6 linked regions of the Homo sapiens genome follow. The protein of the gene in region 2 interacts with the protein of the main gene of each other region in a pairwise test. Each region holds a gene or a part of one and is shown on either strand. Other genes may lie near its edges. The genes, in order: SMAD2, PLIN3, TBC1D13, ACMSD, TBPL1 and PBX3.

Region 1 (3,500 bases), on a different chromosome or scaffold from region 2:
GCAGTTGCCCTTGCGTGCTGTACTCAGACTTGGAGGAAGTGATGTCTTATTCAAGGCCAGTTTTTGTACTAGTGGTTAAATAAATGGTTTCCAAATTGGAGTCAGAAGGAGAGCTTCTAAAATGTAGGTTCCCTGGCCTCAATTGTGAGATTCTGCTTTAGCAGGTCTGGAATTGGAGCACTGGGATCTGCATTTTCAGAAAACCCAAAATGATTATCAGCCAGGACTTAAACCTCTGCTTTAGACCACATTCCCTGTGGGCTTTCAGATTTTCTATCAATGTTCTTCCCTCTTCCCAGCTCCCACACATTAAAACTCAGATCATGCAGAAAAGAAGTTACAGTTCCTTCATTTCACATCAATTTCTCATGCATCCCATCTGGTTTTGGGAAGGTGTGGGACGAGGTGGATGGCCTTAAACTTGCCAATCAAAGATAACGTTCTCTTTCGATTCAAATAGCCTATCTCAGGCTTAAAACCATCTCTTTGGATAAATGCTCAGCTTTTCAAAGGTTCTTCCTAGCTTCTTCCTCATGATGGCATCTAGTGGGTGAGAACAGTCATCTCCAGGTGACACAGGAAAGAGTTTCTCTAATGTATGTGCTGAGGTCCTTGACGGTCCTGCTGCTGGTGCTCATCCTGCCATCTTTGCTGGATGTCACTGAGTCTACTGGGTAATGTAAGTGGGTCCCTGGCTTTTGTTCACTGCTGTCATGCCCTGCTCCTGACCACAACTCTGTCATTGCCTTTGGTCTCAAGGTCTCTACCTTAATAGCTTCCATGTCCCAACTATGGGACTGTTAATCTGCTGGGCTTTGGAGTGGGTGGGAAGGGATGATGTTGGAACTTTGGGATGTACTGAACATCTTGCTCAAGCTTTGGGAAGCCAACATTTTCTCAGACTGACTAGACACCTCCTTCCACCAATGCTGAGCTAGTGCTCCTGTGCCATACTGGGTAAGCCTCTAAGTCATGAGTAGGACTTTTTTGAGTGGCTTGCAGTCTTCCCCAGGCTATGCCAGGAAAGTAGTTGACTAACCCTGCTGCTCCAAGACTCGCATACCCATCCTGAAGTTTCCGTTTATTTCCCAACAGGGCAATTGCAATCTCAATCAATCTCTCCCTGCCCTGGGAGTCATTCCACTCCTGCCTAATGAAGAGACTCTTCTCACATCGTATTCTCAGTTTCTCTTATCCATGGTTAGGAGTAAAACTCATGTTCAGTTGTCCAAGCTTTGCTTTTAGTATGTGAATGGAGCTCTTAGCATGTAGAACTCCCTTCTCATTCTCAGTAAAGTCTGACTTTGAAGACTACTTATCATCTTCCTAGAGATGCCAAAGAATAATCAAGATAATAAAGGCAGGCTCTGAGATTCACAGCTGAGTAGCAACTGTGCTGTTACTCTAGTACACACCCTCTCCTTTCCTGTGACTGTCAGGCTTCAGGGCTTACCTTTATTGGAAAGACAGCAGGGGGGCATATATGAAGAAAATGGAATCTTTAATATTGTCAAAGTCTTGACCCAATAGAGACATTCTTGCCCCAGACTCTCTTGCTTCAGTGCCTTTGCCTGTTCTGGTCCTAAGTACCTTGAATATCCTTCTCTTGATGCCCTGATATAAAACTCTTTATTCCTCAAAGCCAAGTTCAGGTTATCACCTCCACCACAGACTTTTCTTTCCCTCCCCAAACTTCATTGCCTCTTCTCATCACTCCCTTTGTAATTTGTTTATACTGGTAAGAGAGCATTCATCATAATTAGGCCTATCTATGCCTACCTTTCTTGTTAAATTATGAGCTTTGTTCTGCCTTGGATATCTCTCTGGCTTGGATATCTCTCTGGCCTTTGCTCTGCACTTCCAAATGTATCCATTATTCAAGACCCAGGTTTCCAGCCTGATCAACATAGCAAGATCCCATCTCTCCAAAAAAAAAAAAAAAAAAAAATTGTGGGGCCGGGTACAGTGGCTCATGCCTGTAATCCCAGCACTTTGGGAGGCCGAGGCAGGTGGATCATGAGGTCACGAGTTTGAGACCAGTCTGGCCAACATAGTGAAACCCCATCTGTACTAAAAATGCAGAAAATTAGCCGGGTGTGGTGGTGTGTGCCTGTAATCCCAGCTACTCGGGAGGCTGAGGCAGGAGAATCGCATGAACCCGGGAGGCAGAGGTTGCAGTGAGCCGAGATTGCGCCACTGCACTCCAGCCTGGGTGACATTGCAAGACTCCATCTCAAAAAAAAAAAAAAAAAAAATTAGCTGGGCATGGTGGCAGGCACCTGTAGTCCCAGCTACTTGAGAGGCTGAGGTGGGAGGATTGCTTGAGCCCAGGAAGTCGAGGCTTCATGAGCCATGTTTGTGCTACTGCACTCTAGCCTGGATGACAAAGTGAGATCCTTTTCTAAAAATAAGGACCCAGTTTATTTTATTTAGTTATTTAGTTATTTTTGAGACCAAGTTTCATCACTCAGGCTGGAGTGCAATGGCACAGTCTTGACTCACTGCAACCTCTGCCTCCTGGATTCAAGCAATTCTTCTGCCTCAGCCTCTTGAGTAGCTGGGATTGCAGGTGCCCGCCACCACACCTGGCTAATTTTTGTATTTTTGGTAGAGACAGGGTTTCACTATGTTGGCCAGGCTGGTCTCAAACTCCTGACCTCAGGTGATCCACCTGCCTTGGTCTCCCAAACTGCTGGGATTACAGGTGTGAGTCACCCTGCCTGGCCAGAACCCAGTTTAAATTCCATCCTCTCTGCAGAGTCTTCCTTAACCACCCCTATTGAAAGTTACCCCTGCTTCCTACAAGAAGTGGTACTTGGATGTTCATGAGATACCTGTGCAAGGCTCCTGTGGGGGTCCTGGGGAGACAGTGACATGGACACTCATGAAAGGAACCTTGGAATAGCGAGTGTGTGTGCTATAAAATGTGCTTTAGATTTGATTACCACCACTTAAGTTATGAGCTCTGATATGGTTTGGGTCTCCATCCCCACCCAAATCTCATCTTGAATTGTAATCCCTACATGTTGAGGGAAGGAAGTAATTGTATTATGGGGGTGGTTCTCCCATGCTGTTCTCATGATAGTGAATTCTCACAGGATCTGATGGTTTTATAAATGGTAGTTTTTCCTGTACTTTCACACACTCACACTCTCTTCTGCCACCTTGTGAAGAAGGTGCCTGCTTCCCCTTCTGCCATAATTGTAAGTTTCCTGAGGCCTCCCCAGCTGTATTAGTCTGATCTCACGCGGCTAATAAAGAGATACCGGAGACTGGGTAATTTATAAAAGAGGTTTAATTGACTCACAGTTTTACATGGCTGGGGAGGCCTCACAATTATGGCAGAAGGTGAAGGGGGAGCAAGACACATCTTACATGGCATCAGGCGAGAGAGCTTGTGTAGGGGAACTCCCCTTTATAAAACCATCAGATCTCGTGAGACTTATTCACTATTACAAGAGCAGCACGGGAAAGACCCACCCCCATGATTCAGTTACCTC
Region 2 (3,500 bases):
TTCTGTAGAAAAGAAAGTGGGACCCAGGCTGGGCCTGGTGGCTCATGTCTGTAATCCCAACACTTTGGGAGGCCAAGGCAGGTGGATCACCTGAGGTCGGGAGCTCGAGACCAGCCTGACCAACATGGTAAAACCCCATCTCTACTAAAAATACAAAAATTGGCCAGGTGTGGTGGCACATGTCTGTAATCCCAGCCACTCGGGAGGCTGAGGCGGGAGAATCGCTTGAACCTGGGAGGTGGAGGTTGCAGTGAGCTGAAACTGCACCAGTGCACTCCAGCCTGGGCAACAAGAGCGAAACTCCATCTTAAAAAAAAAAAGAGGGGGCCGGGCACAGTGGCTCATGCCTGTAATCCCAGCACTTTGGGAGGCCGAGGCGGGAGGATCACGAGGTCAAGAGATTGAGACCATCCTGGCCAACTTGGTGAAACCCCGTCTCTACTAAAAATACAAAAATTAGCTAGGCGTGGTGGCAGACGTCTGCAACCCCAGCTACTCAGCAGCCTGAGGCAGGAGAATCGCTGGAACCCGGAGGTGGAGGTTGCAGTGAGCCGAGATTGCACCACTGCACACCAGCCTGGCAACAGAGCAAGACCCCGTCTCAAAAAAAAAAAAAAAAAAAAAAAAGTGAGGCCCACAGAGGCAAAGTAACTTGTGTGAGGGCCACCCAGCTGCTGAGGGGCAGGACACAGTTTGGAACATGGTGTTTTTTTTGTTTTGTTGTTTTTGAGACAGAGTCTCGCTCTGTCGCCCAGGCTGGAGTGTAGTGGCGCGATCTCAGCTCACTGCAACCTCCGTCTCCTGGGTTCAAGTGATTCTCTTGCCTCAGCCTCCCGAGTAACTAGGACTACAGGCACACGCCACCACGCCAAGCTAATTTTTTTTTTTGTAGTTTTAGTAGAGATGGGGTTTCACTGTGTTTGCCAGGATGGTCTCGATCTCCTGACCTTGTGATCCGCCCACCTCAGCCTCCCAAAGTACTGGGATTACAGGCATGAGCCACCGCGCCTGGCCAGAATATGGTGTTTTTTTGGTTTTTTTTTTTTTTTTTGAGATGGAGTTTCACTCTTGCTGCCCAGGCTAGAGTGCAATGGCATGATCTCGGATCACTGCAACCTCCGCCTCCAGGGTTCAAGAAATTCTCCTGCCTCAGCCTCCCGAGTAGCTGGGATTACAGGCACCCGCTACCACACCCAGATAAATTTTGTATTTTTAGTAGAGACGGGGTTTCTCCATGTTGGTCAGGCTGGTCTCAAACTCCCAACCTCAGGTGATCCTCCCGCCTTGGCCTCCCAAAGTGCTGGGATTACAGGCATGAGCCACCGCGCCCGGCCAGGAACATGGTGTTTTGATGTTTTGACTTTCCTGCCGCCAACCTTTTCTGACTAATAAGTTATGGAGGTGGCAACATTCTGTGTAAAGGGCCACGTAACTAAGATTTTCAGTACTGTGGGTCACAGTCTCTGTCACAACTACTCAACCTTGCCATTGTAGGGTGAAAGCAGTCATAGACAATATGTAAATAAATGGGCATGGCTGTGTGCCAATAAAACTTTATTATAAAAACAAGTGGGCTGGGCACCGTGGCTCATTCCTATAATCCCAGCACTTTGAGAGGCTGAGGCAGCTGGATCACCTGAGGTCAGGAGTTCGAGACCAGCCCGGCCAACATGGTGAAACCCCATCTCTACTAAAAATACAAAAACTAGATGGGCATGGTTGCAGGCGCCTGTAATCTGGCTGGCTTTGCAATTATTCCTCCAGCTACCCTGTGGGGAGTGGATTCGGGGTGGGGATGGGAACCGACAGGAGAGGCAGCAGGGAGGATGCCATCAAGCTTGTCTAGTTAAGCTGGGACCAGCGCACTCCACACCCAGGTAGGTCCCTGTCTCGACAGAGCCCCTGAGGACGGACATCGTTACCTTCTCCGTGGGCTGCTGCAGGATGGGGAGGTTCTCCTCCAACTTGTCCAGCCCCCTGTGGGCGTATTCGCTGGCTGATGCAACTGCCAACAACAATTAAGACGCAAATGTGACTGCTGGAAGGTCACCTAGTAATGGTTCAGGGGGACAGGACCAAGAGCTGGGTAGACCCCCCTACTCCCCACCCAGGGAAATGACCAGGAGGGGAATTCAGTGCCCCCTGGGACTTCACCCACTCTGGGGCTCCAGCTTGGAGAGGATCGGCTGAGCCCCGCTGACAGCAGCCGCCGTGAGGGTCCTCACTCCCTTCTCTGCTGCGTCGCAGACAGTCTTGATGTGCGGGTAGCTCTCCTTGGTGGAGGCATAGGCTGCGGACACCATGTCGCAGGTGGAGCTGATCAGAGGCATGCTGGCCACACGGTCCACCACACTGGGCTACAGGAGAGAAGTGGCTCAGGCAAACTGGGTGGGGGAAGATGGGGAGCTCAGCCGGAAACTCAGGGTGCCCTGCAGTTTTGCTCTTACTCCTGGCCAGTGAAACGGCTCAGTTTACCCACACTTTGCATCCAGGCAGTTGCACAAGCCAGGAACCTTGGGGTTTCGCCACGTGCTTCCTTTATTTTTATTTTATTTTTGAAACGGAGTCTTGCACTGTTGCCCGGGCTGGAGTGCACTGATGCGATCTCAGCTCACTGCAACCTCCACCTCCCAGGTTCAAACGATTCTCCTGCCTCATCCTCCTGAGTAGCTGGGATTACGGGTGCCACCACGCCCAGCTAATTTTTTTGTATTTTTAGTAGAGATGGGGTTTCACCATGTTGGCCAGGCTGGTCTTGAACTCCTGACCTCGTGATTCGCCCACCTCAGCCTCCCAAAGTGCTGGGATTACAGGCGTGAGCCACCGCACTCAGCCCACGTGCTTCCTTGAACACAGGCTATTTACATGAGCCTGCACTTTATCCCAGCGATGTGCCAGGTGGTGATAAGGGACAACAGTTCCATTCTCATGGCAGTTAGGGTCTAAACCGGGGGCTGTAGACCACAGCCCATGGGTCACAGCCAGCGCACCACTTGATTTTTAAATTTTAATTATTTTTGGGGCCAGGAGCAGTGGCTCACGCCTGTAATCCGAGCACTTTGGGAGACCGAGGCGGGTGGGTCACTTTGGGTCAGGAGTTTGAGACTAGCCTGGCCAACATGGTGAAACTCCGTCTCTACTAAAAATACAAAAATTAGCCGGGCGTGGTGGCACATGCCTGTTACCCCAGCTACTTGGGAGGCTGAGGCAGGAGAATTGCTTGAACCCAGGAGGCAGAGGTTGCAGTGAGCCAAGATGTCACCACTGCACTCCAGGCTGGGCGACACAGCAAGGTTCCATCTCAAAAATATATACATAAAATAAAATCACCTGAGGATGAGAGATCTGGAATAGAAACTGGCCTCCTAGGACGTCCCTGAGAGAGCCTTCAGAGGTGAGGATGATTTGGCTCAGGGGTTGGGGAGGGCAGGTAGTTTCAGACAGAACCCTGCTCCCTCAGGCCCTCCAAGGGCCTTTGAGATTCCCCCCTCCCAACTGGG
Region 3 (3,500 bases), on a different chromosome or scaffold from region 2:
AGTATTTTCTTTCCTTTTTCTCTTAAACTCCTGGCCACAAGGTGTCGGGCCATGACCATCTGCTTGACAGTTACTCAGCGCAATCCTGATGCTGCCAGATCCTGGGGTGCTTTCTAAAAGTTGGGTAACAGAGGTTCACTGTGTCCCATCTGGGTGTAATGGCTGCTGGGAAGGGCCCTGCATCACAGTGAGTGAATGAGCCAGGCTTCTAATCTTATAGTGGGGATGGCTCTGAGAAGGTCATTACAAATGTGAGAAAATGTGATAGGGCTGGGCACAGTGGTTCACGCCTGTAATCCCAGCGCTTTGGGAGGCTGAGGCAGGAGGATTGCTTGAGCCCAGGAGTTCAAGACCAGCCTGGGCTACATGGTGAAACCCTGTCTTTACAAAAAATACAAAAATTAGCTGGGCATGATGGCATGTGCCTGTAGTCCCAGCTACTCAGGAGGCTGAGGTAGGAGGATGGTTTGAGCCTGGGAGGCAGAGGTTGCAGTGAGCCTACATCACACTACTGCCCTCCAGCGTGGGTGACAGAGCCAGACCCTGTCTCAAAAAAATAAAAATTAAGAAAACGGCCAGGCACAATGGCCCATGCCTGTAATCCCAGCACTTTGGCAGGCCAAGACAGGCAGATCACTTAAGGCCAGCAGTTCAAGACCAGCCTGACTAACCCGGGGATTTAACCCCATCTGTACTGAAAATACAAAAATTTGGCCCTGGCCAGGTGTGGTGGCTCATGCCTGTAATCCCAGCACTTTGGGTGGCCGAGGTGGGTGGATCACCTGAGGTCAGGAGTTCAAGACTAGCCTGGCCAACATGGTGAAACCTTGTCTCTACTAAAAATACAAAAATTAGCTGGGCATGGTGGCAGGTGCCTGTAATCCCAGCTACCCGGGAGGCTTAGGCAGTAGAATTGCTCGAACCCGGGAGGTGGAGGTTGCAGTGAGTCTAGATTATACCACTGCATTCCAGCCTGGGTGACAAAACGAGACCCTGTCAAAAAAAAAAAGAAAAGAAGAGAACATTCCAGGTGGAGAGGAGGGCATATGCCGAAGTCCTCAGCGGGAGAGAGCGTGGTGTGTTCCAGGTCAGGGAGGCCACGGGGTGGCTAGAAGCAGAGAGCGAGTGAAGAGGTTGGTGCTGGTAAGGCCACTTGGGGCCTTTGTCATGAGGGGTGGGGAGAATCCTTTACAGCAGTGTAAGCAGGGCAGTGACATAATTCACATCTGCTTGTGTCGGAAATGCTTTAGGCACTGTGGAGATACAGGAGTGGCGGTAGAGAGGCTACCTGGAAGGCCACTGCAGTTGTCTAGGCAAGAGGTGGTGGGGGCAGGGATGCAGCAGGGTTAGATCTGAGAGACTCTGGGTGGAACTGATAGGACCCCCAACTTTTAATAGATTCCTGTCACTCTGAGAAGCTCCTTGTAGTCAAACAAGTATATTATCTTATTCCTTAATTTACACCCCCTACTTTGGTCTCTGGAATAGTGGCTTGTTCCCCTAAACTTTTCACTGTCTTCCATCAATGGAAAAACCCTTTTCTGTAGCCTCCAACAAGCTAGGGCAGATACTGCTGCAGAAGTTTTTCTCCCCCTGGGGAATGACTTTGTTTTTTGTTTGTTTGTTTGTTTTATTTTTTTAAATAGAGACAGAGTCTTGCGATGACACCCAGACTGGTTTTGAACTCCTGAGCTTAAGCGATCCTCCTACCTGGGCCTCCCAGAGTGCCAGGATAACAGGCGTGAGCCACCACACCCAGCTGGAAATGACTTTGATCGAAGCTCTGACAGGCAGGGGCAGATATGGCCGATCCAGGGTTGCAGGTGCCTACGAGAGTTGGGTGCCCAGCAGAACTGCTGTGCAGTGCAGATTGCGTGACTAGATAACCAGGAGGCTGGCTTTGTGGGCAGTACTCTTGGCTGCTGATTTCCTGGCTGAAGGGCCGGGAGGGGACTGGCTCCTGTCATTCCTTTCACTGTAGTAACTAGGTGTAAAGAGCACTGTTACCTGGTTTAACTTTTGGTCCTGGTAGCAGAGAACCCACCAGAAACTTCATCCCTAAGCCTCTGGGTTCGTGATTGGGCAGTTTGAGTTAAAGACCATCTGTGTGACTCTGGGCAAGTCACACATATCCTGGCCTTTGTTTCCTAGACCATAAACTGGGCATAATCATTTCTGCCCTGCCTGAGCTGCCAAGAGGATGAAATGAGGTCATGGCTGTGCAGATTCTTCAAAAGCAGAAAGCCCTGGGCATCCTCAGGAGGCAGCCTGCCCTGAAGTCCTGGACCTTAGGTTTGGGAGTCAGCCAGTTCAGGGTCAAGTCCTGATGCCAACACCTAATGTTAGACATTTAAGGAGTGGCCCGACATTTCTGAGCCTCAGTTTCCTCATCTTGAAAATGATGTTGAGAGAATATTTTAGATTGTTCAGTGGATTAAATGGAGGAATACCTGTACAGCATTGTCTGCCGCATAAAAAGCTCTTGTTAAGGGCCAGGCGTGGCTCACGCTTGTAATCCCAGCACTTTGGGAGGCTGAGGCGGGCGGATCATGAGGTCAGGAGATCGAGACCATCCTGGCTAATATGGTGAAACCCCGTCTCTACTAAAAATACAAAAAATTAGCCAGGTGTGGTCGCAGGCGCCTGTAGTCCCAGCTACTCGGGAGGCTGAGGCAGGAGAATGGCGTGAACCCGGGAGGCAGAGCTTGCAGTGAGCCGAAATCGCGCCACTGCACTCCAGCCTGGGCGACAGAGCGAGACTCCGTCTCAAAAATAAAAAATAAAAAAGCTCTTGGTAAATGTGGCTGATGTGTGTCTGTGTGTGTGAACATCCCTGCATGTGTGCGCATACATATGTATGTGTATGTTAGGGGAGAGAGAGTTTAATGTCTCCAGGACCCTATGCTTCCAGGATGGCTTCATCCACTGTCACTGCCTGGGTTCTCGCATATGGGTCACTCACCTCTGGAGCTTCCGCCTGAGCAGGCCTAGGGCCGGGCCCAGCACTTGATTTACAAAGTTCCCAAGGGATCCTGGCAGGCAGCTGGTGTTGGGGACCCGTGCTCATTGTAGGAGTCTTCAGTAGGGATCATCATCTCTTTATTTATCTTCCAACTTTTTTTTTTTTTTTTTTTTTTTGAGACAGTCTCGCTGTTTCTTCCAGGCTGGAGTGCAGTGGCACAATCTTGGCGCTCTGCAACCTCTGCCTCCTGGATTCAAGCAATTCTCGTGCCTTAGCCTCCTGAATAGCTGGGATCATCGGCGCGTGCCACCACACCTGGCTAATTTTTGTATTTTTAGTAGAGATTTTTGGCCAGGGTGGTCTCGAACTCCTGACCTAAAGTGATCCACCCACCTCAGTTTCCCAAAGTGCTGGGATTACAGGTGTGAGCCACTGTGCCTGGCCTCCAACCTTTTCTTATGAAAATTTTCAAACATTCAGGAAAGTTGAAAGGAGAGTACACTGGATAACTATCTGTATACTTTCCATCTAAATGCAA
Region 4 (4,175 bases), on a different chromosome or scaffold from region 2:
GGCCCATTGGGAGTGCTCTAAAAATGCTTGCACTTACTTACTCAGTATTAGCAAGTGCCTCCATGTTAGTTTAAGGCTTACTCATTCAGTTTTAGCTCACTGAACTTCTAAAAAAATGGATTTCAAGGATTTCCTTTATTTTCTTTCAAGCTGTCTGTTATAATTTATCCAGAATCTAGCTGAATTACAGAAGGAAGCTTTTTGACTACTCAATTTATGTGTTGTGGAGTCTGAGCTGAAGGCAGCAACCAAGGCAGGTTTAAGGGTTTGCCAGGGGACCTGGGGTCCCTTGAACATTTTAAGCTGTTCAGGAAGAGGAAAGGGTAAACACAGAACAATCAAGGGCTGTTTTGTTCCAGGCTCTCTTTAGAGGCATGACCATATAAGCCCCACTTTCTGCTATATTGGAAGCCCTCCCTGACTGCTCTGATAATGCTAAATGGAAATGGCTACTATCTTCTTTTCCCTACACTTTAGGATATGTATCATCTTTCTCTCAGTCAACCTTACATCGTCAGCATATAGCAGTTCTCCATAAATGTTTGTTAAATGCATGAATGAAGCTGGGTGCAGTGGCTCTCGCCTGTAATCCCAGCACTTTGGGAGGCAAAGGTGGGTGGATTGCTTGAGCCCAGGAATTCCATACCAGCCTGGGCAATATAGTGAGACCGCATCTCAAATTAAAAAACAAAAAAAAAAGGAAAAAAATGCATGAATGAATGAGTCCAAGACAAAGGCACTGGAGGAAAAAACATATATGAAGAGTGGACTCTTTCTGTGATTTAAAATGTGAAACCTCCCCATAACTTTTCAACACGTTAAATTTTCATGAACAAGACAACTGTTAAATATTATTTAAAGATATGGGAGTAACTAACTGAACAAAAAGCAAAATCATAAAAACTGGCTGCTTCTGAATAGTGCAAGGAAAAGTAAGAAAAGGTGAGTCAGGGATCTATCCTTTTTCTGTAAAAGCCCTCTGCATGGTTTTATTTTTAACTACAAACTATTTAATTATTAACTATGTACAACTAAGTTAAAATATTTAAAATGAAAAATCAGTCAATTTTTGACCTGCTGTAAGTCAAAGCATCCTGCTGTGCTTTTGACCTCATACAGTTGAGTACAGTTGTTTTTTTGTTTTTGTTTTTGTTTTTGTTTTTTTAAGTTTTGTGCCAAGAGTCCTGACTACCAAACTGTGTTGACCCAAAGCTTGATTAACAAATAAAGCTTGGTTAACCAAAGCTTGGTTAACAAATAAACAGAACTTTGAACTTTAATAAAGCAGTTCTAATGGACCTAGACTGGGTTGGGCAGGCCTACTGACTGCTGCCTGAAGGTTGCTGTAAAGGGACTAAGTAAATCAATTAACTCCACAGTTTTCACAAAGGTCTCTTGATATCAAAACTTCTTTCCTTGCATGCTTCTCTGATCCTGTGGAGATGAAAATTGACATCCATAGTCATATTCTACCAAAAGAATGGCCAGATCTAAAAAAGGTAATGGTAATTAATTTGCTGAATTATTTCTGAAACTTCTCCAGGGTTTCTCAATGCCTTTCTCTTCTTTGTGGAATTAGATGTCTAGTTTATCTGCTTTGGTGGGGGGCGAGGGGGTTAAATCATTTGGTAGTTCTGATTTTCTAGCTTTTAAAAATGACTTTTATATTTATTTTGAAATAACATTGGATTAAAGAAATAAGTGCTTTCTCAGAAACCCTTTTTTCCCTCAAATGAACCATTCTTTAAAATATCTGGACAATTTAAATAAGGCAGATTTACCTTTTCAAAAATCACATATTCAGCTGCTGGGAAGATACATGCCAACTACAGAATTTAAAGTTACAATTTTAAGTAGAAGACCATTAAAAATGGAATGTGATCGGTTTCAAGGACTTCTAAAATATATCTCCTTTCCAAAATGTTTAAAATAAGTTTTAGAAGCACCAAGAGATAGCTTTGTGAATTTTTTTAGTCTATTTTAGGACACTGCCTGAAACCTTTACTGTTTGATGTTCTTTATTCTATAAATCTTTGTCCTGAAGAACTAGGAAGTAGGTACATCAAAAAACCCGAGAATAAATGACATGAAGCTTTTGCACAGTGACATCTCCTAAGAGAGTATTCTTTGTGTTTCTCTAAAGATGGAAATTTCCTTTTGTCATTAAGAACTTTTGAATGAATATAAAAAGAGGAAGGTGAGGAACATGAAAGAAATGTAAAATTGGCTAGAGGTTTGTTCAGGCTTAATATCAGGTTTTACCCAATCTTCAGCATTCTGCCAGTACTTTCACACCACCGATAATGTTTCAACTTTTTTATCCCAAGTGAGGGAAAATGAATTAACCCAAACTTGAATTAAATGTGGTTCATTGTGCAAATAGATGAAACTATTTTCTTCTCATAGTTGTCTCATTGAAGAATGTTTATCTTAAGTATTTCTTTGTCCATTGGTATCTTAGGTAAGAGGGGTGGTAGAAACTGTGGATTGAAAAACAAAATCTTTGAAAGCCTATCCTATGCACAGCTAACGATAAAAGATAAACCTCTCAACCTGCTCTTCCTAAAAGGACTCTACATGTTTACACAGGAACATGCTGTTCTGAGTGCTGTTGTCCTCATCATAGTTTACTGAAGTGTAAACCACTTCACAATGTTAATGATTTCATGAAGGGAATGCACCAGTTACTTTGTGGGAGTGCATCTGCCTTGTTTAGAAGCTGCATGCAGTTTCTTACATCTTATGGCGCCCACCACTTTCTACCCCTCATTTATGAGTATTTGCCTGATGAATGATGCAATGAACACATTGACTAACTTGTGATACAGGTAATGGAAGCAATAGATTATACTCCCTAATCTGAGAGTTTTAGAAAAATCCAAATTTTAGTATTTGGTATTTTAAAATAGCCATAAACTATACCTAGCAAAAAAAAAAAAAAAAAAAAAAAAAACCACTAATTCCTCTGTTACAGCTTTTTTCTCTATTTGAGTATGAAAGAATATCCACATGAAATGCTTTGGAAACCACCACGGTGGTCTCTAGAGGACAACGCCCCCCTGTACTATCCCACTGAGAAAGCTAGCTAGCATGATCGACCCTCCAAGCAGGGCTCCAAGCTCCAGGGCATACACCTCCTTGTGCAGACAGGATTTTGAGGCTTAGAGAGAGCTACAGTCTGAATGTGTATGTCCCCCCCAAAATTCAGGTGAAACCCTCATCCACAAGGCAATGGTATTAGGAGATGCAGCCTTCTGGAGGTGATTAGGTAATGAGAGCAGAGCCCTCATGTATGAGATTAGTGCCCTTATAAAGTAAGCCCAAGGAAGCTTGTTCGCCCCTTCTGCCACGTGAGGGCACAGCAAGAAGGCACCATCTTAGAACCAGGAAGCGGGTTCTCACCAGATCTTGGACTTCCCAGCTTCCAAACTCCCTCTCCTTTCTATCACCAGCTATTGCTTTAAAGAGGGAGAGGAATTTTGTCCCAATAAACCAGGTTTCTTCTTCTTTTTTTATTTTTATGTATTTATTTTTATTTCCATAGGCTATTGGGGAACAGGTGGTGTTTGGTTACATGAGTAAGTTCTTTAGTGGTGATTTGTGAGATTTTGGTGCACCCATCACCCAAGCAGTATACACTGCACCCAATTTTAGTCTTTTATCCCTCATCTGCTTCCCACCCTTTCCCCGAGTCCCCAAAGTCCATCGTGTCATTCTTATGCCTTTGCATCCTCATAACTTAGCTACCACTTATGAGTGAGAACATATGATGTTTGGTTTTTCATTCCAAACCAGGTTTCTTCTTATGTAGTAGTCTCATATGCTGCAAGCAGACAGCTGATACACTTCATCATCACCATCTACATCATTTCCATCATTATAGTCATAACACTTCGTACTTCCAGGGAGAGACAGAGGGAGAAATAATTTACATAAACCTTGTGAAATATGCAGATAAGATTTATATTATTCACTTGACAGATGAGATGCTTGAGACTCAGAAATGAACCTAGAATCCCAGAGCTATGAGAGGCCACCGTGGTCCCTCAAGAGCCTCCCCACCACCACACCCATCTTGAGAAAACTGGCCCAAGAGAGTACTGCTGCTGGAATAACCTTGACCTTCTTGCACAATGAAGAGACAGAAAAGCAGAATCAACACGCCTGAAGTGATG
Region 5 (3,500 bases), on a different chromosome or scaffold from region 2:
AAAAGGGCTCTATTCTTCTATCAGTACTGTTTTTCAGAGAACATCAAGACTTCTACATTCTGTTTACCATCCCTTGTTTCCCAAACTCCACTTCATGCTTTTAAACCAGCATAATCTGTCTTCTGCCTCTACACAGTACAAAATGTTACAAATGAATGGCTCATTGCTGAATTCAATGGCACACTTTAAACTCCCTCCTACTCTAGAGCATAAAGCACTGGGAACTTCTGATTCTCCAACTGCTCCCTTGCCATGTCCTATCCCTGGATTCTGAAGAAGCTTTCTTGAATTCTCTCCCCATCTCATATACTTCTCTGTCTGTTCCTTAAATCAGAAGTTCTTAACTGAAATCCATGCCAGACCCTGAAAAGCTCAACAATAGGTTCCACAGGTTAGGAACCCCCTGAAATTGTATACACACTAATCTGTACCTGAGAAGGCCATTGTTTTTTTCATATTACCAATAGGTTTAAGATCCCTAAAGGTTATAAACCACTGCCTGAAATCCTTTTCCTCTTTAAACTTTTCAGGCCTCAGTTGCTATCTATGAGCTTATGGCTGGCTCCTACATCTATCCTGACCTATCAGATATCTGAATCCATATTCCCAATCATCTATTAGGCATATCTATTAAAATCGACACATACAAACAAAACTCATTAAGCACCTCAAGAAATCTTGCTCTATCTCCTTGTAATTCTGTGAATGGAGTGAGTCACAATTAACACTCGCTCACTTCAACCAGAAATTTCAGAATCATCCTTCATCTCTCATTCTTCTCCTCTGCTCAGTTAACTTTTAATCTAGCTTCTTTTCTGCATCCAAAGCAACGTTTTATTTTAGGCCAGCTCACATGTCATTATGGCTACAGGCTTCTAATAGAACTCTCTGCTTGCATTCTCCATGCTCTAATCCATCTACCAAATAGCTACCAGGATTATCTTCCTAATTGTCTCCCTATCTGAAGAAGCATCTCTTGGCTCTCTTAGAATGAAAAACAGAATCTCATCTGCTTGCCTTGGAATGCAGTGGACTTCCCACCCCCGATCTTCCTTATATAACCTAATCTTCCACTTCCAACACACCTTAACATTCTCAGCTTTACACCATTCCTCTTCCAATAACAGACTGTTTCGCGGTTTTATAGCTGCCTAAATCGTCCTTTCCCCACTCCTTCAACTAGGAAACTTTTACGCATAATTGCATATTTAGTATGCAACTCATGTGAACCAAGCTCTGCGGGTAGACACTGGGAATACAGCTCAGAACAAAATGGTCAGGCAAGCAACTCTCATGGCAGTTGTATTTCAGTGGAAGAAAAAGACAACAAATAGGCTGACAAAATAATCAAGAGAATGTGATCTATGTTATAAAGGAAACGAGATAATGAAAGAGAAACTTCAGGAGCAATGATCCAGGGAAGGTCTTTCAACTTTCTTAAGAGGTAAGAAATAATTCTTGGCCAAGTGCGGTGGGTCACACCTGTAATCCCAGCACTTTGGGAGGCCAAGGCGCATGGATCACGAGGTCAGGGATTCAAGACCAGCCCGATTAACATGGTGAAACCCCATCTCTACTAAATACAAAAACTAGTCGGGCATGGTGATGTGCACCTGTAATCCCAGCTACCCAGGAGGCTGAGGCAGAAGAATGCTTGAACTCGGGAGGCGGAGGTTGCAATGAGCCGAGATTGCACCACTGCACTCTAGCATGGGTGACAGAGCACGACTCCGTCTCAAAAAAAAAAAAAAAAAAAAAGAAAGAAAGAATCTTAAAAAGAGATCTTAAAGGATAAGAAGTAGCCAGCCATATGAAACACTGGGAGAAGAGCAACCCGGCAGAGGGCACAGCAAATGAATGGTACTGTTGGTGTTATAAGTGTCTACTGAACTGCAGACACCAAGCTCCTTGAAGATAACTGTTTAATTTAAATGTGTGTCTTTAGAACTTGGCTGAATTGCTGGCATTTGGTCCTAAACTCAATAAAAAGTTGATGAATTAAATGAATACCTTAAGAACAACTGAGAAAATGGTTTGTGGGGTTGGGGGCAGGTAAGTGTAAACAGTAGATATCTTTCACGATAGCAATAAGAATCTGAGTAGCCTCAACTGACTCAAGTTCTCCAACAGTATCCAACTCTTCCCTTACTTCACTTTCTGGTATATTATACTACTTAGTGCTCCTACACCTAACAAGTTACTAATGGTTTTAGGTCAGACCCCCAAATCCTGAAGAGCAACTGTGTTCCAGGAGCTTTTACAAATACAAAAATATATTTCTGATGTAAGAAAAGAATTATTTTAATTAAAACACACCTACTGACCTTCAGCATTTTTTATATTCCCTTTTCTCATCCTCTGAAAGTTACTGTCTCCTTTTCTTCATCCCCAAGGGTTCTAACTCACCCATGTTCTATAGCCTACAGCTAATTCCACTATAGCCGGTCATCAGAGAATGGCCACCCTGTCAGTCACTTCCAAGATATCAACCATTCAGTTAAAGTTAAACAGGGTGTGATGATGAAGCCATTTTTCCTCTATACCCAAAGAGACAGCAAAAATATATAACCAAGACAAACAAATTCAGAATATTGTTTCAGGCATTTGAAACTCTTCTAATTTTAATAGGCCAAAACCAAAAGCCTAGAAAGAGTAAATCAAGAGGCATGCATTCTAAATGTACAGACAAATTAAATAATTATCCAAGTTGTTTTGTACTGCGCACTGAAGTGGAAGTTTCAAGATTACTGGCCACAGCCAAGGAGTAGTGTTGAATTTCTTAAAATTAAAAAAAAAAAAAAAAAAGGCTGGTCAGCCAAAGGCTTTCTCTGCTATACTGAGACCTACAGATTTCCATTAGCAATATAGCTTTTTAATCTGTTGAGCCACTCAGCATCCCTTACTGAGGGCCTCCCCCCTCAGTACAAAAGAAGAGTAAAGAACAGAGTACCTTTAAGATTAGCACACTAATTTCTGTTGAGGAAGGTCTAATGAATTAGTCATTGTGCCTTCAATATGGTTGTCTGTGATCCCTGCAACCACCCTAATCTGTAACGAGCAAAGATCCTGGAAGGAGGTCAACCCACAAGCAATTAAGGTATGCTCATTACAACTTTCCTAGGTTGTACATGTACACAAGTCACTGGAAATGCCCAAGGAACACACTGCAGCCATAAGTAGGTGAGAGGAAAAACGCTTGCGGCTCACCAGAAGCATCTGACAAATTAAAAAGGATGGGGTGGTTCTTGTTCCACAAAAGCTTCAAGTTCATTAACTGAGTTTCAAACAGTAACAGGCCCTATAAATGTTGTCCACAGTCATAAATCAAATCTCCATCTTCATATTTGCACTTTTGGGTTACACATTGACTTTATTATGTTCATATCTGAAAGACAGCAACATCTGTCCCTGAAAAAGAGTGTGATAGAAAGAACACTAGGTGGCCAGGTGCAATGGCTCACGCCTGTAATTCCAACACTTTGGGAGGCTGAGGCAGAGGG
Region 6 (3,500 bases), on a different chromosome or scaffold from region 2:
AAACCCTGGTGATTTGATGCTGGTATAAGCTGGGGCTAAAGTTACATAAAATCTCATGGAAAATTTTGTAGGATATTTCTAAAACAGTGAGACTCAGGACCTTGTCATTGACTGACACCAGCTTCACACAACTTCCACCAGAGTGTATGGAGAAAGTAAGGAGGCAGGTGTAAAGACACATGGCAAGAGGTAGTAAGGAATCACCTTAATTCCTCAGCCAAAAAACTCAGGCCATTTGGCCTCTAATATTATATCTCTTTCCATGCAAGGTGACTGGTAGTGTTTATCTAGTAAGTAGTTATAGTTATTTTAGCATAAAGTTATACAATTAGGATTATACTACAAATAAGAGTCATTTTCTACTGTTTATGCTCAGGGGCAACCTTTTCAACCATGACTTATTTTGTTTACTCTCAATTATTCATATGTCAAATCAGAAAGTGGGATTTTTACATACATACACACGATAATTTTTCCAAAATTCTTATTTGTACATTTTCCACAAGAAGTTATTCTTACAAATGAGACTAGACATACAATTTTAGATCTCAGAAAATCCTATTCCAAAAATAGAAAACACCTTATAATATTAATTTACACTACTTTTTAACTTAAAGCTATACAAATTTTTCTACTCTTCCTCAAAACACACTCACCTCTGGGATAGGATTCAGCATTTGCTTAATACCATTGTATCCAGAATATTAGAAAAGGCAATGTGAAAAAACAACGATATATATAATTGAAACTATACAGGGAATGTAGAGGGGAAAAAATCAGTATTAAAACTGATCAGGGGTTGCCAGGGATCAGTGGGAAGGAAAGAATAAAAGAAGAGAGGGATGAATAGCACAGAGGATCTTTAGGGCAGTGAAAATACTCTGCATGACCCTATAATGATGGGTACATGCCATCATAAATTTATCCAAATCCATAGAGTGCACAATACCAAGAGTGAACCCTAATGTAAACTATGGATTTTGGGTGATAATGATGTGTCAATGTAGGTTAATCAATTTTAACAAATGAACCCCTCTGGTGGGGGATGCTGATAATGGGAGAGACTATGCATGTGTGGGGACAGGAGGTATATGTGATATCTCTCTTCTTTCCTCTCAAATTGGTCTGTGAACTTAAAACTCCTCTTTAAAAGAGTCTTTAAAATACACACAAACACACACAAAACTCACCAGGACTCCCATTTCACACTAAAGTGTGTGGACTTTAAAAAGTACTTGCCTACATAGTGAAATACTCATGGGTGAAATTATAGGATGTCTAAGACTTGCTTTAAAATACTCTTACCAAATTGGGGCTGGGTACACAAAATAAGAGTGGCAAAATGTTGATAACTGTTTATCTGGGTAAAAAGTATCTAGCTGATTCTGATTCCTTATTTGGGGTTGAACTCTATGAAATTACCATATTCAACTGTTTTTGGCCTCAAAACTTAGCAATTTCATAGGGTTCAATCTAATACTATTCTCATTATTTTTGTGTACATGTATTATAAAATGTTTCATAATACGTTTTTAAAATTACCTTCCAAATGACAAATCTTATCAAATGAGAATTCCTCAAACTTGGCAGCTTTTCAGCATTAAACTAACAACTAAAATATATGTAAAAAGACCCACCAATATTTTACTTTATTACATTAAATCTAAGACTCTCTTGTTTTTCTCCACATTTTAACATCTCTGAAATGTGAAAGCATTTTATAATCAGTAATATTTTATAGTTAAACTAGCAGTATTAATTTTTTCTTGGTGTTACATAAAGATGCAACTTAAAGTTATCTGAGATTCAGTATGGTTAATATAATTGCTGAGAACCAGATTTTTAACCCATATTCTCTTTCTAATAAGGAATTTAGCACATAATGCCTTGCCTAGCATTCCCTGTCCTGGGGTACCCATAATTATCTTGGGAGGTCTCATACTCAGAGAAACAGGCCGGAACCTGCTTACTTGGTGAAGTTCCCTATAGTCTGGCACAATCCATAAGAATTAATTCCCAGGAGGATTCTGGAGCTCACAGCATAGGAGGGAAAAGCTCACTGTGCAATGCTTCCCTTCAAAAGTGATTAAAGCTTATGAACAAGGCTAGTGCATAAATGTTAATTATACAGAGCTTTGAAGAGCACCAAGTGGTGAGGTGAGAGGGAAGAATGACTGCAGGTGTGGTAATAAGGGCACGTGAATGTGCGGAATGAATAAAACTAAAACAAGTAGATGGGATAAAATAGGTAGCGCTCCTCCTCCAAAATCTCAAAGGGTCTTCCTTTCATGAATCCAACAATTCACTTGGATTTTTGCACTGACCTTATTTATTTTGTAATTTGTGTTAACACCTACCCCTCACAGCCCTCAGAATTGGTTAGCATGGTCTAATAGAAGAGCAACAGAGGGTTTGTGTAGGACTATGAGAGTGGCGGCTGCTGACCTGTTCATATTTCTCCAGTTCTGTGTGATAGATTTGTCTGATCTGGGTCAATTTGGCTCTGTAATCTGAGTGTTCAATAGAGTTATCTGAAGAACCTCCAGAGGCTGCCGCGGCTGCAGCTGCTGCCGCCGATCCCCCACCTTTCTCAGGACCTGAAACCCCTTCTGCCAAAAGCATATTGTCCAGTCTCATTAGCTGGGGATCGGGAGGGTCCTCCTCCTGGGCTCCTCTGATGCTGAGACCTTCAAGGAAAGAGAGAGAGAGACAGAGAGAGAAGAAGCGAGAAACAGAGGACAAATAGTGTGAGTATTTTGTTTATTCGAGAAAATGATCAAACAACATCAGTGTACTACAATTCATGCTGAGAACTTCATTGTTCACATTTGATCGGTAAGTTTGAATAAGTATGAAAATTATTTTTAAGATAGTGTTTACATGCACCCTAGAATTTTAAATACCCCCCCACCGCCTCAATTTACCACAGACTAGATCCTTAGAAAAAGGTAACCCTGGCTTCCTGGAATATTTTAATCATTCAAGCTTCCCAGATTTAGATAATTTAAGCATAAAATGGGAAGAGGGTAAAAAATTGAATGTTTTAAGAAAGAAAGAAAATAATTACAGGGATATAAAACAACTCATCCAAAGGTGGTTATTCTGTCTCTCTCTGTACAGTTGGAGAAACAGAATTAAAATTCCCATAAAATAGTTAATTCACAAGCTGTAATCAAAAATTGAAAAATAAACAACATTAGATGAGCTTTTCCATCGTGTGATTTCAGAAGAGGAATACACACATTATGAGGTAACTGGCTATACTTAAATATATATATATTATTAAATGAATATTGTTAAGCAATTGCCAGCAAACTATAAAACGAGGATACTAAATACAGTATTAAAAATGTGCCATTGACATGGCAATACAGTGCTGGGCACAGTAGTCTCAATCTAATTTTGCTTTTAAATCAAGAACTTCCTAAGTGATGCCCAGTCAGCAACCTCTTCTGAGTACTATAGATCATAGCTGACAATTCATAGGTTTAATCAGGTCA

The links.
Region 1: the proteins of PLIN3 (region 2) and SMAD2 interact in a two-hybrid assay, tested with the Homo sapiens proteins (one large-scale study listed by BioGRID and IntAct).
Region 3: the proteins of PLIN3 (region 2) and TBC1D13 interact in binary tests that used the Homo sapiens proteins (3 or more experiments, as listed by UniProt).
Region 4: the proteins of PLIN3 (region 2) and ACMSD interact in a protein complementation assay, tested with the Homo sapiens proteins (one large-scale study listed by IntAct).
Region 5: the proteins of PLIN3 (region 2) and TBPL1 interact in a two-hybrid assay, tested with the Homo sapiens proteins (one large-scale study listed by IntAct).
Region 6: the proteins of PLIN3 (region 2) and PBX3 interact in a two-hybrid assay, tested with the Homo sapiens proteins (one large-scale study listed by BioGRID).

The regions. Positions count from the first base shown.
Region 1 is NC_000018.10:47,812,160-47,815,659, reverse strand, and holds part of SMAD2 (mothers against decapentaplegic homolog 2), read left to right. Parts: 3' UTR 1-3,500. UniProt on the Homo sapiens protein: Receptor-regulated SMAD (R-SMAD) that is an intracellular signal transducer and transcriptional modulator activated by TGF-beta (transforming growth factor) and activin type 1 receptor kinases.
Region 2 is NC_000019.10:4,857,668-4,861,167, forward strand, and holds part of PLIN3 (perilipin-3), read right to left. Parts: intron 2,358-3,500; coding exon 2,159-2,357; intron 2,006-2,158; coding exon 1,923-2,005; intron 1-1,922. UniProt on the Homo sapiens protein: Structural component of lipid droplets, which is required for the formation and maintenance of lipid storage droplets. Required for the transport of mannose 6-phosphate receptors (MPR) from endosomes to the trans-Golgi network.
Region 3 is NC_000009.12:128,797,253-128,800,752, forward strand, and holds part of TBC1D13 (TBC1 domain family member 13), read left to right. Parts: intron 1-3,500. UniProt on the Homo sapiens protein: Acts as a GTPase-activating protein for RAB35. Together with RAB35 may be involved in regulation of insulin-induced glucose transporter SLC2A4/GLUT4 translocation to the plasma membrane in adipocytes.
Region 4 is NC_000002.12:134,837,241-134,841,415, forward strand, and holds the start of ACMSD (2-amino-3-carboxymuconate-6-semialdehyde decarboxylase), read left to right. Parts: upstream 1-1,375; 5' UTR 1,376-1,442; coding exon 1,443-1,499; intron 1,500-3,981; exon of another isoform or gene 3,982-4,175. UniProt on the Homo sapiens protein: Converts alpha-amino-beta-carboxymuconate-epsilon-semialdehyde (ACMS) to alpha-aminomuconate semialdehyde (AMS).
Region 5 is NC_000006.12:133,959,724-133,963,223, reverse strand, and holds part of TBPL1 (TATA box-binding protein-like 1), read right to left. Parts: intron 1-3,500. UniProt on the Homo sapiens protein: Part of a specialized transcription system that mediates the transcription of most ribosomal proteins through the 5'-TCT-3' motif which is a core promoter element at these genes. Seems to also mediate the transcription of NF1. Does not bind the TATA box.
Region 6 is NC_000009.12:125,914,873-125,918,372, reverse strand, and holds part of PBX3 (pre-B-cell leukemia transcription factor 3), read right to left. Parts: intron 2,688-3,500; coding exon 2,446-2,687; intron 1-2,445. UniProt on the Homo sapiens protein: Transcriptional activator that binds the sequence 5'-ATCAATCAA-3'.